Homo sapiens: one gene and its partners. Each later gene encodes a partner of the first gene's protein in a complex. Each region holds a gene or a part of one and is shown in the gene's direction. Other genes may lie near its edges.

What was found. Proteins that work in one complex are often made in the same cells at the same time.
Region 2: NCAPD2 (region 1) and NCAPG share a complex: the UniProt entries of both Homo sapiens proteins name them as parts of the condensin complex.
Region 3: NCAPD2 (region 1) and SMC4 share a complex: the UniProt entries of both Homo sapiens proteins name them as parts of the condensin complex.

What each region holds. Positions count from the first base shown.
Region 1 is NC_000012.12:6,511,060-6,518,214, forward strand, and holds part of NCAPD2 (condensin complex subunit 1), read left to right. Parts: intron 1-50; coding exon 51-193; intron 194-3,205; coding exon 3,206-3,333; intron 3,334-3,404; coding exon 3,405-3,528; intron 3,529-3,713; coding exon 3,714-3,861; intron 3,862-5,768; coding exon 5,769-5,966; intron 5,967-6,305; coding exon 6,306-6,440; intron 6,441-6,536; coding exon 6,537-6,624; intron 6,625-6,719; coding exon 6,720-6,900; intron 6,901-7,155. UniProt on the Homo sapiens protein: Regulatory subunit of the condensin complex, a complex required for conversion of interphase chromatin into mitotic-like condense chromosomes.
Region 2 is NC_000004.12:17,841,979-17,845,365, forward strand, and holds the end of NCAPG (condensin complex subunit 3), read left to right. Parts: exon of another isoform or gene 1-331; coding exon 332-401; exon of another isoform or gene 402-1,323; coding exon 1,324-1,447; 3' UTR 1,448-2,887; downstream 2,888-3,387. UniProt on the Homo sapiens protein: Regulatory subunit of the condensin complex, a complex required for conversion of interphase chromatin into mitotic-like condense chromosomes.
Region 3 is NC_000003.12:160,402,650-160,409,649, forward strand, and holds part of SMC4 (structural maintenance of chromosomes protein 4), read left to right. Parts: intron 1-26; coding exon 27-218; intron 219-1,678; coding exon 1,679-1,855; intron 1,856-1,938; exon of another isoform or gene 1,939-2,036; intron 2,037-2,095; exon of another isoform or gene 2,096-2,176; intron 2,177-7,000. UniProt on the Homo sapiens protein: Central component of the condensin complex, a complex required for conversion of interphase chromatin into mitotic-like condense chromosomes.

The sequences.
Region 1 (7,155 bases):
CCCACTTTTTTCCCTTATTTTTTCCTCAATGTATACATGATCCTTTTTAGGGTAAGAAAGCTCGGACCAAGGCAGCCCATGGCTTTGACTGGGAAGAAGAGAGGCAACCAATTCTTCAGCTTTTAACACAGCTACTTCAGTTGGACATCCGTCACCTGTGGAACCACTCAATAATTGAAGAAGAATTTGTCAGGTGGGTAGGGAGGATGGCTACAGATAATACTGAGCTGTGAGAGTGAGGCTCTGTTGATAGATATGCCGTTTTTTTGGTTTTGTTTTTTTTTTGTGGGGGGACAGAGCTTCACTCTTGTCGCCCAGGCTGGAGCGCAGTGGTTCAATCTCGGCTCACTGCAGCCTCTACCTCCTGGGTTCAAGCAATTTTCCTGCCTCAGCCTCCCGAGTAGCTGGGATTACAGGTGCCCGCCACCACAAGCTGATTTTTGTATTTTTAATAGAGACGGGTTTTGCCATGTTGGCCAGGCTGGTCTTGAACTCCTAACCTCAGGTGATCTCCCTGCTTTGGCCCCCCAAAGTGCTGGGATTACAGGTGTGAGCCACCACGCCCAGCCAGAAGTCTATTTTTAAAATAAGTAAAATAAGTTTGATGGAAGAAGGTTGTGATTTTAAATCAGCTACTCTAGGCCCGGTGCGGTGGCTCACGCCTATAATCCCAGCACTCTGGGAGGCCGAGGCGAGTGGATCACCTGAGGTCAGGAGTTCAAGACCGGCCTGGCCAACATGGTGAAACCTTGTCTCTACTAAAAAAATATGAAAATTAGCTGTGCATGGTGGTGTGTGCCTGTAATGCCAGCTACTTGGGAGGCTGAGGCAGGAGCATCACTTGAACCTGGGAGAGGGAGGTTGCAATGAGCTGAGATCGCACCATTGCACTCCATCCTGGGCGACAAGAGCAAAATCCCGTCTCAAAAAAAATAGATAGGGCCAGGCGCGGTGGCTCACGCCTGTAATCCCAGCACTTTGGGAGGCTGAGGCAGGTGGATCACGAGGTCAGGAGATCGAGACCACGGTGAAACCCCGTCTCTACTAAAAATACAAAAAAAAATTAGCCGGGCATGGTGGCGGGCGCCTCTAGTCCCAGCTACTCAGGAGGCTGAGGCAGGAGAATGGCGTGAACCCGGGAGGTGGAGCTTGCAGTGACCTGAGATCGCGCCACTGCACTCCAGCCTGGGCAACAGAGCAAGACTCCATCTCCAAAAAAAAAAAAAAAAAAAAAGATAGATAGATAGATAGACAGACAGACAAACAGACAGACAAGCTACTCTAGTAAGACTTCTTTGAGATGGTGACATTTGAGCAAAGACCCAGAGGAGGTGACTGAGAGCTATGAGAATATGTGGAGGAATAGCAAGGGCAGGGAAAAGGAATAGCATATGCAAAGACCTTGAGGAGGGAGCATGTCCAGCACGTACGAGCAATAGCAAGGAGGCCAGAGAGCTGACAGCTGAGAGCAGGTACGAGGGTTAGGCCGTGAGGCCATGGGAGCAGTGGGGAGCCAGACCGCAGGTTCTTGTGGGCCATCATGGTGACTTTGGCATTTCCTCAGAATGAAGTGGAGCCACTGGGGAGCCACAAGCAGGGAGGTGAGGTGACCTGACTTGTACTTCAACAGGGCCATCCTAGCTGTTGTATTGAAATCGACTATGGAGGGAAAGGGGAAGCAAGAGACCAGTTAAGAGGCTGTTCCAATAACTCAAGCAAGAGATGATGGTCTCTTAGACCAAGGCGTGGCAGTGGAGATGGGGAGAAGTAGTTGGATTCTATACTTTTTCCTTAAGGTAGAGCTTACAGGATTTGCTAACAGACTGGGTGTGAGGTGGGAGGGAGAGTTCAGTCAAGGATGACTCTCCCGGGTTTTGGTCTGAGCATTTGGAAGACTGGAGTTAATGGTAACTGAGATAGGGAGAAGGCTGTGAATAGGTGTTTTGGGAGGAAGATCAGATGTTCTGTTTTGGACATACAAAGTTTGAGGTGTTTATTAGCCACGTAAAGTCAGATTTGGACGTTGAATATATAGATCTGGAGTTCAGGAGAGAGGTCTGAGCTAGAGATAACACATTTGGGAATATAATAGTATTCAGAGCCGTGAGACTGAATGAAATTACCAAATCAGTAAGTGTAGCTAAAAGAGCAGGAATCCAAGGACTGGTACCCTAGGGCACTCCAGCATTAAGAGTGAGGATGCCGGGTGCATGGCTCACGCCTATAATCCTAGCACTTTGGGAGGCTGAGGCAGGAGGATCACTTGAGCCCAGGAGTTTGAGATCAGCCTGGACAACATAGTGAAACTGTGTCTCTACAAAAAATAGAAAAATTAGCTGGGCATGGTGGAGGCTGAGGTGGGAGCATCACCTGAGCTATGAGGAGGTCAAGGATGCAGTGAGCCGTGATTGCACCACTGCACTCCAGCCTGGGCAACAGAGGCAGACCCTGTCTCAAAAAAAAGAGTCTGAGGAGGAACTAGCCAAAGAAACTGAGAAAGGAGTCTTGTTCTTGTGTCCTGGAAGCGAGATAAAGCATATATTTCAAGGAGAAAGTGAGTGATTAACTGTATCACATGCAGCTGTGAAAGACCACTTGAGATGCAGATTGAATCAGTCGTTATATTTAGGAATGAGAAGTCATTGGTGACTTTGTCTTTTTTTTTTTTTTTTTTGTGATGGAGTCTCGCAATGTCGCCTGGCCTGGAGTGCAGTGGCATGATATCAGCTCACTGCAACCTCCACCTCCCAGGTTCAAGGGATTCTCCTGCCTCAGCCTCCCAAGTAGCTGGGATTACAGGCGCCCACCACCACACCCAGCTAATTTTTTGTATTTTTAGTAGAGACAGGGTTTCACTATGTTGGCCAAGCTGGTCTTGAATGCCTGACCTCGTGATCCACCTGCCTCGGCCTCCCAAAGTGCTGGGATTACAGGCATGAGCCACCACACCCGGCCAACTCTATCATATTTTTATGATATATTTAGGTTCTTTGTCAGCATCACAACTGGTTGAAAGTTGGTAATCTTGAAGGAAGGAGTACCTAACTGGGGTCAGCAAAGCAAAGCAACTTGTTATAGAAAGTAATGGCTAGAATAAAGAAAACCCTGACTTTGGGAGCAGTAGGGATAGAATGAATGAGGCAGGGCTCTGATACAATTGGATTCAGACAGCTGCTTTCATCATCTCAAACTCTTCCTTTCTCAGTTTGGTTACTGGCTGTTGCTACCGCCTTCTGGAGAATCCCACCATTAATCACCAGAAGAACCGCCCCACTCGGGAAGCCATAACACACCTGCTTGGTGTAGCCTTGACCCGTTATAACCATATGCTCAGTAAGTTACCAGTCGCTTTGCCCCGCCTTTTTTGTATTGCCCATAATTTCTCATGTTTAATGCTTCCACAGGTGCTACAGTGAAGATCATCCAGATGCTGCAGCACTTTGAACACCTGGCACCTGTACTGGTTGCAGCCGTGAGTCTATGGGCAACTGACTATGGAATGAAGAGCATAGTGGGAGAGATTGTAAGGTGACTCTTCCTTCTCGAAGTTTCTCATGCTTATTTTCCTTGGGGAGGGAATAAAGAAAGATTGGAAATACATTATCTGTGCAACAGTAGATTCCTTCAGATATTAGATACCTGTCTTACCTTCCCTTACTGGGAACTGAATAATTGATCTATGTTGCTATGGCTGTGTTTTCTTCCCTGTGTAGAGAGATTGGACAAAAGTGTCCCCAAGAGCTGAGTCGAGACCCTTCAGGGACAAAGGGCTTTGCAGCATTCCTGACAGAACTAGCAGAACGTGTCCCAGCTATCCTGATGTCCAGCATGTGCATTTTGCTAGATCACCTGGATGGAGAAGTAGGTGGTCCACTAGGGGTCACTGAGCTTTTTCTGGGGATTTTAAGTCCAGTGTTGAAAGGCTGTTTCTTAACAGAACAAGAAAGTAGCTTTGACAAGTTGTCTAGATTTATCATTGTGACATTTCCTTTCTGTAGAGAAGCAGGTCAAGTTTGTTGAATAAGGAGCTCTTTATTAATCTGTTAATCTTTCAATTCACATTGCTTTTATCCAGTTCTGGTAAGGGAGATGACATTTCTGCAGCTTAAGTCTAGTAAGAGCAACTCAGCTTTGATTTTTTTTTTTTCTTGGAGGTAGGATCTGGCTCTGTCACCCATGCTGGAGCATGATCATAGCTCATTGCAGCCTCGATCTCCTGGGCTCAAGCAATCCTCCCACCTCAGCCTCCCAAGTAGCTGGGACTTCAGGCACATACTACCATGCCTGGCTAATTTTTTTAGTTTTTGTAGAGGTGGGGTCTTGCCATATTGCCCAGGCTAGTCTCAAACTCCTGGTCTCAAGCAACCCTCCTGCCTCAGCCTCCCAAAGTGCTGGGATTGCAGGCGCTACCATGCTTAGCCTTCAGCTTTGATTCTGAGTCCCATCTGTTCCTCAGGATAAAGCGTCTTCCCACCAGCTGGCTTGCCTTGCTTCCTCAAACAATGAACTTTCTCAAATCAACCCATGTCATCTCTCTCAATTCTCTTTTATGCCTGAATGCTAACCTGGCTGATTCCCATACTGATGTTGGGCACTCCTAGGTGAATGTCAAGGACAAAGACAGTCCACTTGTTCATCTCATTTACTTTAACTTTTTGTGCAAGACCCTATTCTCTGGTTCTTAGCCTGGCAAAACCTTAACCCTGCTCTCCACTAGATTATGTATTGGACTTGCTGGCACTCTTAAGGCTGATTTCCATGTTTCTGTCTCATTTTCTGTCAGTAAAGCATCTGAAGGAGAGTGGGAGGGAAAGGAGGGGATATTTATTAGTAAGGATTAAAGACTTTGAGGCCAGGTGTGGTGGCTCACGCCTGTAATCCCAGCACTTTGGGAGGCTGAGGTGAGTGGATCACTTGAGGTCAAGAGTTTAAGACTAGCCTGGCCAACATGGTGAAATCCCATCTCTACTAAAAATACAAAAAAAAATTAGCTGGGTGTGGTGGCGCGCACCTGTAATCCTAGCTACTCGGGAGGCTGAAGTGGGAGGGTTGCTTGAACCTGGGAAATGGAGGTTACAGTGAGCCGAGATCGCACCACTGCACTCCAACCTGGGTGACAAAACGAGACTCTGTCTCAAAAAAAAAACCAAAAAAAACCACACAGACGGGCGCGGTGGCTCACGCCTATAATCTCAGCACTTTGGGAGGCCGAGGAGGGTGGATCACGAGGTCAGGAGTTTGAGACCAGCCTGGCCAATATGGTGAAATCCTGTCTCTACTAAAAATACAAAAATTAGCTGGGTGTGGTGGCGGGCACCTGTAATCCCAGCTGCTTGGGAGGCTGAGGCAGGAGAATCACTTGAACCCGGGAGTCAGAGGTTGCAGTGAGCCGAGATGGCGCCACAGCACTCCAGCCTGGGCAACAGAGCAAGACTCCGTCTCAAAAACAAACAAACAACCACAATAACAAAGGCTTTGAGACCTCAGCTGAAGGGTAGTTAATAAATGCTTTTCAAATGTGTGTTGGTGAGTGGATGTGATTTTTTTATTCAGCTACTACCATGCTTTCCTGTGTGAGCCCTATGAGGAAAAATTGGTTTTGGCCCTTGTTCTAGCATTCTCTGAGCAACAAGTCCTCTTTGGGATTCAGCTTTCTCCTGTGACCTTGGGAGTGAATACCTAGGCAGTTAATGGAAAAAGTTATGGCCAAGCACAAGCAAGCTTCGCCTTGACTAAAGGTTTGACCCCTCTATGCTTCTCTCTCTTAGAATTACATGATGCGTAATGCTGTGCTGGCAGCCATGGCGGAGATGGTGCTGCAGGTTCTCAGTGGCGATCAACTGGAAGCAGCAGCCCGAGACACCAGAGACCAGTTCTTGGATACTTTACAAGCCCATGGCCATGATGTCAACTCCTTTGTGCGGAGCCGTGTTTTGCAGCTCTTCACCCGAATTGTCCAGCAGAAGGTAACCAACTTCTATGTGGCAAAAACATATGGTACCTCTCCATATACCAGTGTAAAGAGGAATCCAGTGTTGAAGATAAATATCTGCCCCAAAGAGGTCTAGAATTCACATTTTTATTATCAGTAGTAAAAGTCTTCCTCTACCAAGGACGAGGATATCTGGCTCCCTTTAAGGACTGTAATGTGTCTTACCACTACAAGGAGTACTCCTAATCTATATTCTGTAGAAAGGGTTTTTAGAGTGAGTGGGTAGCTCAGTTTAGAGTATACTTAAAGATCATCTTGAACAAAATGGATGATGTGGGACTTGAGCAGATTCTTCTCTTCCTACCCTACACAGGCTCTCCCCCTGACACGTTTCCAGGCAGTGGTGGCTTTAGCTGTGGGACGTCTGGCAGACAAGTCAGTGCTAGTATGTAAAAATGCCATCCAGCTGCTGGCCAGTTTTCTAGCCAATAATCCTTTCTCCTGCAAGGTAAGTAGACTTGGTCCACCAAAAGAGAAGGAATTAAATGGAAACAGGGATGAAATTATGTCATTTACTGACCCTGCTATTCATTTTACCTGATAGCTTAGTGATGCTGACCTTGCCGGACCACTGCAGAAGGAGACCCAGAAATTACAAGAGATGAGGGCCCAGAGGCGAACTGCAGCAGCTTGTAAGTAGTTACTGCCTTGGAGTCCTAATGCCAGACAGGCTTCTCCTTGCAGTCAGAAACTCTAGTGAAAGAGACTAAGTGACACTCTCATTTAGCTGCAGTGCTGGACCCAGAGGAGGAGTGGGAAGCCATGCTGCCAGAGTTGAAGTCTACCCTGCAGCAGCTTCTACAGCTTCCCCAGGGAGAGGAGGAGATTCCTGAGCAAATTGCCAATACAGAGACAACTGAAGATGTGAAAGGACGCATCTATCAACTGCTTGCCAAAGCTAGTTACAAGTAGGCAAAAGAATGGGATATTCTTCGTGATCTGTTTATGTTTAGAGTTAACCTTTGAGAAACTTACATAATGTGTCTTTTAAATTAACTGCACACAGATATGCTGCCACCAGGTGATGGTAGATGTTTTCATGTAGTAATGGTCTGACCATAGGCCTAGTCCACAATTAAGCATGTGTTTCTACTTTATAAATGTTTAAAAAAACTACTGAAACAATTAAATGTTAACAGTATTATAATCAAACATGAGTCCTC
Region 2 (3,387 bases), on another chromosome or scaffold:
AATAATAGAGGTACTTCATTATAACACATTTTTCATATACTGTCCTCAAATACATTGAACTAAAATTTGCCTTCTTTTAACTTGCTTGAAATTTCCTTATTTTCCCTTACTCATTATTAGTGCTTACAAAATAAATTAAGTTTTAATCTTGCTTGGGTTCCTTTTTCTGTGGCAGTGATAACTGGTACCAAGATGGCTAGAACAAGTAGGAGATACATGTGTTGAAAGGATTGTTGTGTTGAAGACAAAGGATTTAGTTAGCCTAGAAACTAGATTAAAAACAAAAAGCAACTGATAATAAATCCTGATAATGAATTATACTATCTTCAAGGACAGAGAAAAGTGACAGTTTCAGCTAGGACGAACAGGAGGTGTCAGACTGCTGAAGCCGACTCTGAAAGGTATGTCATGCATGTCTAGAATATATGGAGGCCTATCTTCACTTTTTATTTCTACAAGTAGAAAAAAACTAATTTTCTTGCGAATGAGAGAGAATATATAACAAGATAGTGAAAACTATAAATAGCTGTCTTAGGTATATAGTCTAAAATTCCATCATCAAGAGCATTTGACTTCTTACGGCGTGTTTGCTTTTGCCTATTAGCTGGCATGGTCTTTAGTACTATCTTTAATATGTTGTTTCAATTTTTAATTACATGATGTGACTCCTCTTTGATCTTCAGTTAGCAAACTCTTGATTTTGATAATATTTGGGTTCTCTACACTTACATACTGATAGAATAATTCTGTCTATAATTTGGGTATATTGTGTGGTAGAGTGTTTTATTTTTGGCTTCTGTCAGTCAAGCCACTGTTAGAGCTGAAAGTTGGTAGCTGTCTTGTATTCATTTGCAAAATTGTATTGTGTGTATTTTCAGTACATAGTTTTACACTGTTGATTAAATTTGTCTTTTTTGGGGGGAAACTTGTTTTTTACTATGTTTTTGGAATTTATTGCTTAAATCAAGAGAGAGAACTTAATTTTTTTGTCACTTCTTGAGTTTCAAAGAAATCTCTTTTGGACAGTTATGGTCCTCGTTTAATTACAAGCTTCATTACAAGTTTGTGGCTTTTTTTCCTGTATAACACCAGGTTCTGTTATAGTATATAAAATCATTAGCTAGATTTTCCCTGATTCACTTTGCTAGATAGCCAAGTCAGTGTTTTTTTGACATTGAGATTTTAGTTTTAAGCTAAGTCAATGGAATCAGGCTATCAATTAAACACTGATAGAATGTGAGTCAGAAACAAAAAAGTTTTATTTATAAATAAACTGGTTTTAAAGCTTGTATCTAAATTCGTGTATTTTCAACATCTATTTAGTGATCATGAAGTTCCAGAACCAGAATCAGAAATGAAGATGAGACTACCAAGACGAGCCAAAACCGCAGCACTAGAAAAAAGTAAACTTAACCTTGCCCAATTTCTCAATGAAGATCTAAGTTAGGAAAGACGATGGAGGTGGAATCCTTTAAGATTATGTCCAGTTATTTGCTTTAATAAAGAAGAAGTTACCCTTGTCAAAATCAGAACAAACCTGATGTCTTTCTGAAGATTTTCTGCTGTGCGCTTCCACGTTACTTTGGCCTGTATTAAAGCAGTAGAGCAGCATCAGTTATTATAGTCCAGAAAAAGTGTGCATCAGTCAGTCACACAGATTTATCACAATCTGAGGTGGGCCTAGGAATCTCATTTTTAAATAGTCTCTCCAAGTGATTCTTATGAACTCTTTATGTTTAAAATCATGTCATTATGGAAAACTTACAAGTGTAACTAGCTAGTAGCTTGCATTTGAGAAGCTTATGACTTAGATGGGCAGAATCAACAAAGATGAAACCGCCTGAGGACACATTTAACAAGTAACATTTCTAGGGAAAATGAAGGAAGTACCACAAACTGGCTAGAAAGGAGCTTATCAATCACCAGTGAGGAAGACCAGTATAACGTTCAACAACAGTTATTTTGACAAAAACTTATTTTGTGATTCCTACAGTGAAAACATTTTTGGTGATATCTGCCTGGGAAATCTCTCTTCCTAAAGTATTTGTATATGGGAGTCCTTGTTTGTGAATGTTTCCTGGATTAGGGAGGTGTCAACATAAATGTATTATTAACCATGAAGCTGCTCGCTATATTTTTGGCATAACAAAATAATATTTATTTACTGTGGATAATAATTCTAGTGGGAATATAATGTGACAGGAACTTCTCTTTATATACGCTACCAATTTATGAGCACTATTCACTGTCAATTTCATTTCTTGTCTTTTGAAATTGACACTTGGCCTGACTTACGAAACTTGTACTATATGAAATTGGTCCTCTTTTCTGCAATACCCAACGAAACACCTTTTCTCTTTATTATTCAGAAATGTCCTAACATGGATCTGTTTGTTTTAATAATTGTGCTTTTTTTAGGCTTATCATCTACTAGAGGCCATTTACTTAAGGTGAAATTTTAAGATGGAGCTAAAGTAAGATCACTGGTTTTTAGAACCAAATTGCTATACATATGTGCCTCATAGAACTTATAAAAGGAGTCAAAGTTTCAAAGCAAGATAGTTATTAAGCAAAAGGAAAAATGGTAATGATAGAAAGTCAGTTAAAAATAGATGATTGTTCTTCATTCTGTTTGTTGGCTCTGTGTTCTCCTGTGCTTCAGATTCCTTATGTGTTGTTGTTTTAAAGACAATTTGCAGGGGGTTGGGAGAAGGACTGAAAAGGTACATTAAGTGTGCTGTAAGGAAAAGTCTTAGAAACATAATAAGCTAAAATCCCATTCACACATGGCCAGGCTATCCAAAAAGAAAGGAGCCATGTTCTCATGTGGTTTACCATACCAAAGCTTGCTTTCTCTGGCATGGGAAAAATAAATTTAAGCACCAAACCTTTAGTATTCTGAGTATTCAGTTTTTAGACATAGTCATGTAGCCATTGCTGAAACTGTGCTTTGCACTATTAAAGGTAGGGAATGTCCTGCTTTTAAAAGTCATCCCTTTAACTTTAAAATAAAAGGCTAAGGTACAATAAAACAGATGTAAATCCATTTACCATTTTTCATTCAAAACTGGTAACTTACAGAAACCACATAGTATTTTTCTCTATCAAGAGGCACAGATTTGCTGAACAGTAAACATGCAATTGTGCCATTGCTCTTAAAGCCCACAGACTTAGATTTAAAATACAGAGAAAGAACTGATAAGCTCACATTTTCCTGTGAATGGGAAACATGCTACTTGACAAAAAGCTATGATCAACTTTTTTTCTTCTGTACATATATAACGTTGAAGGAGATTTACTTCTAAGAGATACCTTTGCCTTTTCTTTCACCAATTTGCTTCGAGGTAGTTGGTATCCACCTGTTTTACAACTGCTCATGGGTCAGGT
Region 3 (7,000 bases), on another chromosome or scaffold:
GTTTTGTTTTTGTTTTTTTAATGCAGCGCTTTTCCTGTATTATCGGGCCAAATGGCAGTGGCAAATCCAATGTTATTGATTCTATGCTTTTTGTGTTTGGCTATCGAGCACAAAAAATAAGATCTAAAAAACTCTCAGTATTAATACATAATTCTGATGAACACAAGGACATTCAGAGTTGTACAGTAGAAGTTCATTTTCAAAAGATAATTGATAAGGTAAGGGATTTTTACTGTTATTGGCAAGTTCAAGTAAGGAAAATGGACTTAAATGCATTACATATTTTATTTTTGGCTTTAAGAAATTTGTATGTAATTACAGCGGAAAGCATTGGTTTCATTATCTCTGACCGTATTTTATTTTGGGGGAGTGGTGGTGCCTGTTAAAATACTTATTTTTTAGCTAAAGAAATGAAGTATAAATAGTTCATAGTAATCCTTTTTGGAATAAAAGCATTGAGCAGTTTTAGGGTCCTGAGTACTAAATAGGCATTATTTTACTATAAATATTCAGTTCATTTTTAAAGTTATATTTTGATTGCTTTAGAATAAATTAGCTAAACTTGAAAATGTAGCAGTTAGCCGGTTTTACCATCTTCATTATTTCAGTGCATTTTAACTCTAATGTTAGTGGCCCCTGAGTATCTGTGATATGAAAGAGCTTTGCTTCAGTTTGACTACTGCTGTAATTAAGTCCTTTAGAAATGGGGGAAGGACAAGCTAATGTTTGTTTTCTAGAAATGGAGACAACTAGAGGTAAAATGTCTAGATTATTTACCTGTTGAGACTTTTTCTCTTCTGTTTAATAATGTAGGAAATTGATTGTTCAAAAATGACTCGATGGAACCTAAAAATATAGAAAACTAATTACATAATGAAATTGGGAGGTGATTTGTCTTTTGAATTCGTTTTCCTTTTTTTAATACAAAGTGCTTTAATTACACAGAATCATCTATTTTAATTTGGTTTCTTTTGTGCTTTCTATTGTACAAGTTGGGTTGGAAAATAGATTGCCAGGAAATCAGATTTTATTCCATTGCATATTAATTACATTTGATTTATCTAAATTTTAGAAGCCTTTGCTTCAGTATGACAGAACTTTTAAGGTTAAGGGAAAGTGTTAAAGTAGATTTGCAATTGATTTTTTTAAAAATCTGTTTAAAAGAAAATCAAGGGAATTTAGTTGTTATTTCTTTGTGATTCTTTTTACTTTAAATTAACGGCACACTCTTTACCCTCCCACACAAAAAAACTAAAGTGTATCACCCGGTTACTACCTTCCTTCCTTTTTCTTTGAATCATCATTTTAAAAAGCTGCAGCTTTTTAATCTGTCAACATGTTAATAATTTGTGTGGGTTTTGGATATGGTGGGAATCTTGTCTACGTCTTCTCAATCATAAACGTTTTTAGGCTTGTTTGGAGGTGGGTTTTTTCGTTGGCTGGTTGGTTTGGCTTCTTGATTTTTGTGATCTTTGAGAAAGGGACCAAAACAGCATGGAAAAGTATCAATTCTTTGCTAAGTTGGGTTATTAATGAGAACTACTGGCAGTTTGTGTGCATGTTCAATTGAAGTTTTTAATCCATAGAATTAGTTTCAGTATGAAATGAGTGAATTTTGAAGTAGGCCTATGACTTAATACCAACAATTGTTTTCTGGTTTTGTTTTTCCTCAAAACAGGAAGGGGATGATTATGAAGTCATTCCTAACAGTAATTTCTATGTATCCAGAACGGCCTGCAGAGATAATACTTCTGTCTATCACATAAGTGGAAAGAAAAAGACATTTAAGGATGTTGGAAATCTTCTTCGAAGCCATGGAATTGACTTGGACCATAATAGATTTTTAATTTTACAGGTAAGTTTATTAAAGACTTCAAAGATTCTCTTATTCTTGTTACTTTTTTTTCTATAAAGCTAGGTTGGATGAATCCTACATTTTTGAGGCCTTAAAGTACTGTAGCAGCACATCATGGTTTACATGCTACAGTCAAGATGCGAATCATTATTTGCTGCTCTAGAAATTTAAGGAAATTCATTCAAAACTATGTTTTCATCATCAGATGTTCGTTTTATGTTTGGATGAACTGACATACTTGTTCCACTCTAGCAGCACGTAAATATTGGCGTAGTGAAATATATATTAAACACCAATATTACTGTGCTGCTTTAGTGTGACAGGGATACAGCAACTATTTTATCAATTGTTTGTATTTCCCTTTAAGGTAACATTTTAAATGAAATGTATTATATTTTAATCTATCCTTTTCCTTTGTTTTTGTTCTTATTATCTCTTCTGATATATAACCAAAAAATGAAAAAATCTGTACACTTGGTGTTTGATTTACCTAAGCACCTAGTTAATTTAATCTTTGTAACACTTTGGATGGTTAACTTAACCTTTACTCAAGTTGGTTTTTGTTTTGTTGAAAATGACTTACTTGGTGGAACCACTACTACTGAAAGAACGAAACTTTGATATTACATTGTTAAGTATCAGAGCTGTTACAGAGCAAGTCCTTTTAAAGAGATGTAAAAATTAAGTACCTGTGCCAAACTGATTTTTATTAGAAACCCTGTTTTCTTTAAGTAAAAGTATATTCTACCAGCATGGCTTGGTAAGAAAAATCCCCTATCTTTTTTTCCCTGTCCTCAAAATTCAGAATTTTTCGGAAAAAAAAAAAATTAGGGTAAAACCATGGCTTTGTCAAGTTCCTGTTTGATTCGAGGGTATCTTCTTTTCCTGTGTTCTATCCAGAATCACCGAAGCATAATAAAAGCAAAACTATTTTGTGATGCAGAAATGACTGAAATAAGTAGGGAATTTTGTTAGGGTGACTGGATGTTCCTAATAACAAACTTATAAAATGTTAGCCTCTGTTTCCATTTTAGTCTTTATTCTTCAATTGTTTCTAAAAATTATTACTTTTAGACATTCATAGTATACAAGGTAAATCAGTATCATTCTAGGATAACCTTTTTTAATATCTTTTGTTACCAGGCACAGTATATTTGCAATACTTCAACCTAAACTTATTTAAAAATTAATGTTGAGGAAATTAATTGCAGATATATTTCTAAACAAGATTGGAATTTATAGAATGTGGCATTAAAGGATTTTGTGTGTTTTTAAAATCAAATTGAACTGTTTTATTGACTTACATATTCTGGGACTTGGTTTGGTTAATAATGGATAAAAAGTTATGTCCCTATATAATACTAAATTTGATGATGATACCAATTTGCAGGAAATTGTACTTATGTTTATCTTTTGCTTAATCTTTTACCGTCATCCTGGGATAATCAAAGTTTTACATTTATCCAAAGATTCATCAAAATACACTGCATTTTAACCCTTCTAAGGATAATTTTTTTCTCTGTACAGCATCTCTGTACGTAATTCAGTAATAAAGGAAGCTAATGTAATATTGTCCCAACGAAGTAAATAATTTATAAATTGTCAAATTTATATTACATTTGTGCTTCTGAAGTATATGGGATGCTAAAGCCAATTTGTTCACATGATAATCTGAACCTTTTTATGTGATCTTTACAATTGTTTAAAAAACATTTCTTCCCAAATAATACAAAGGTGAATGTTCCAAGTTAACAGATTCAGTTTGACTCAATTAAATTTATAGATAAGGACCTTAGGAACTCACTTGTTAGGAATAAGAAACAGGGATTGGACTACGGTAGAACTAATAGTGCCCAATTAAAACTTTGAGGGAAAGTGACAATGGTTTCTATGGATTGTTTTTTTTAAGTCGCTTATGAAAATCTCAGACTCCTAACTGGCAATTTAAAGCATTTGATGGTAAGTAAAAATGTGATTTTTATTACCTTCTCTCCTACTGAATAACATCTATCTTAAAAACTGATTTGGGAGGCTGAGAAATTGGAAACAGCATCGTAGTATCAACATCCAAGACCTAAATCATTACTTGGAATAAAACATGTAGACTATTTGGCCAGTAATAGTGATTAACAGCAAAAGTAATCTAAATTTAGTAAAAATAAACATTTATTTTTGAGATTAAAAAGAACCAAATTTTTTAGAAGTTCCTAAGAGTAAAATTTTTCAGTGTTAATATATTCGCTTAGCAAATTTTTCAAGTAGGCATTTTTATTACTTAAATCCATTAAAAATTTCATTAATTGGCCATTCAATTGAATTCCTATTAAGGCACTATGCTAAAATGCTGTAAGTAATATTAAGATGGCTAAACCTTATTTCTTGTCCTTAAAGACACATACATGCCTTCAAAAAGTTTGTTGTGATTGACCATTGTGTTTTTTATAATCGTACATTTTCTTTTATATATACCTACTTTGGGAGCCTCGGTCCCGTTGTAAGTCTGTACAAGTAGAGTTTTATTAGCTCTGTATAACATTTCTTGGGTAACTATGACTTATAAATTAGGGGTGCTTTTGCTCCATTCAGGGGTAGAAGAATGGTTAATGTTTTTACTAAAAAGTTGTATTAATGATTGCTGCCTCAGGAATATTTTTGTAAACTCCTCAAAAGCTACAACTATTAGCACAACTTTAATTTTGTCAAAGTTTTCAACTTCATATGCTTTTGTCTTCATATTACAAAATCTAAAGTTTGAAACACGAACCAGGCTGGGTGCATTAGCTCACGCCTATAATCCCAGCACTTTGGAAGGCTGAGGCAGGCAGATCACTTGAGCCCAGGAGTTGGAGACCAGCCTAGGCAACATGGTGAAACTATGTCTCTATAGAAAATACAAAAATTAGCTGGGCATGGTGACACACCCCTATAGTCCCACCTACTCAGGAGGCTGAGGTGGGAGGACTGCTTAAACCCAGGAGGCAGAGGTTGCAGTGAGCCAACATCGTACCACTGCACTCCAGCCTGGGTGACAGACCTTGTCTCTAAATAAATAAATAATAGCCAAGTTCTTTTTTTTTTTTTTAATTATTTTGTAATTTGGAGATTTAATTAACCTAGGTCTGAGTTGTTGCCTAGCCATCTGTTCTTTTTTCCAATGTACTTCTCTTAAGCTTGTCACATAAACTACTTGGGTTCTAGTCTCTTAGTCTGTAGAAATGAGCCTATGCTATAATATCAAAAGAAATTTTTAGTTTTTTCAGTAATGCCTCAGTTTTCCAAAGGTGTCTGATTCAATATCCACAACTAGGGTGAAGGTGGTGGAGAGCAGCAAGGAAGCTACCTCTAACCAACCAGAAATAGATATCAAGAAGTCCAGCTACTAACAAGTTACTCTTTCTGTTTTATTTTAGAAAGATACTAACCTTGGTGGTTTAGTTCCTTGGCCTCTGGTAGCTTACAAAGATCAAATTAGAGTAAAATGTATTGGAGGAAGATAAAGAACACTAATTTATAGTATAGTATAATAAAAGATATAGAAAATAAAAAGATGATCAAGATAAAAACTTAAACCTCAGTAATTTTAGGCCATTTAATTTTTATGCAAACACTCATATTTGCTGTAAGAATCACTGAAACCCTCCTTCATAGTAATTACAAGTAAAAATAAAGAGAAGAATAATTGAGGCCTTACTAGGACAACAAAACTTTGTTATAGCTATGTACTGTTTGAGTTTTCTGTAGTTGATGCTTGCTAAAATTTGGATTACATTTGAATAAGGATAAAGGGCATCATACCTATTCATTCCTCTTAGATTTCTAAGCTGTATTTCAGTAAATTGATTCTCAAAGAGTGGTATAACTGGATCATAATATCCTTGTTTGCCACTCAAGAAAGTGTTCCATAACTTAAGATAACAGTGGTGGGAAAAATCATTTAAGACCTTGTTTCATATGCTTTAAGATACAAGAAATAGAGATAACACTGGGAACATATGAAACTTTGTCAGCATCAGATAATAGTGTTGTAGCGACTTGAAACATTTTTTGTCTGTGATTGTGCCAGTCACTATTTGTGACTTGGATTGAACCTTGATATGACTTTAAATTCAGGTTGATGTTTTAAAATTATTTCTGAAATATATTGAGCTTATTGCCCTAAATTAAAACTATATTCTGTAATTTTACATGAGTTATGTAAGTTTTCTGAAGAAATAAGGAGGAATCCTTTAGGCACAGACTGTCAATCTACAGATTACATAGGAGATGGCACAAATGGAAAAAGAAGGAAGAAAGGAAATGGTAGCAAGTGGTAGGGCAGGCAAAGGACATCAAAGAACAGAGCAACAAGAAAAGTCCCAGGTTGTCATTGTAATACCACAGTAGTCTTAATAGTCAAAGGACAAGTAAAGGCCTGTTAATAGCCTGTTGATTCAATAATGCTAATCTGATAATATGGTAACTGGTTTAAAAAAAAGCAATACGGTATAATAATCTTAAGACTGCTGTAATCCCAGCACTTTGGGAGGCCCAGACGGGCGGATCACGAGGTCAGGAGATCGAGACCATCCTGGCTAACACGGTGAAACCCCGTCTCTACTAAAAAATACAAAAATTAGCCGGGCATGGTGGCGCGTGCCTGTAGTCCCAGCTACACAGGAGGCTGAGGCAGGAGAATGGCGTGAACCCGGGAGGCGGAGCTTGCAGTGAGTCGAGATCGCGCCACTGCACTCCAGCCTGGGCGACAGAGCGAAACTCCGTCTCAAAAAAAAAAAAAAAAAAAAAAAAAAAGACTGAATGTTATACAGGAGTTGAGATGTAACTATTTTGCTTTGTAAATATCCTGCCTTTAAAAAAAAAAATGCTCAACTCTATTAGAGGAAATCATAGCTGTATCTTTCATTTTATTTGGAGAGAGAGGAACAAACAACCAAAAATGAGCAACCATTGTTATTTACCCAAAGCTAAGCTGTTTCTTAATAGCTGTACTCTATCTCTTCAGTAAGTAATTTGCCAGGAGAAATACAATGTTTTTAAGGAATATTTTTGTCAGCGTAAACTGTTAAACACTGAATCCCAACTTTTAGCTATCTGAAAAATGTATACTTAAATAATACATTATGGCCATTTGACTCAAATGTAAGTTCT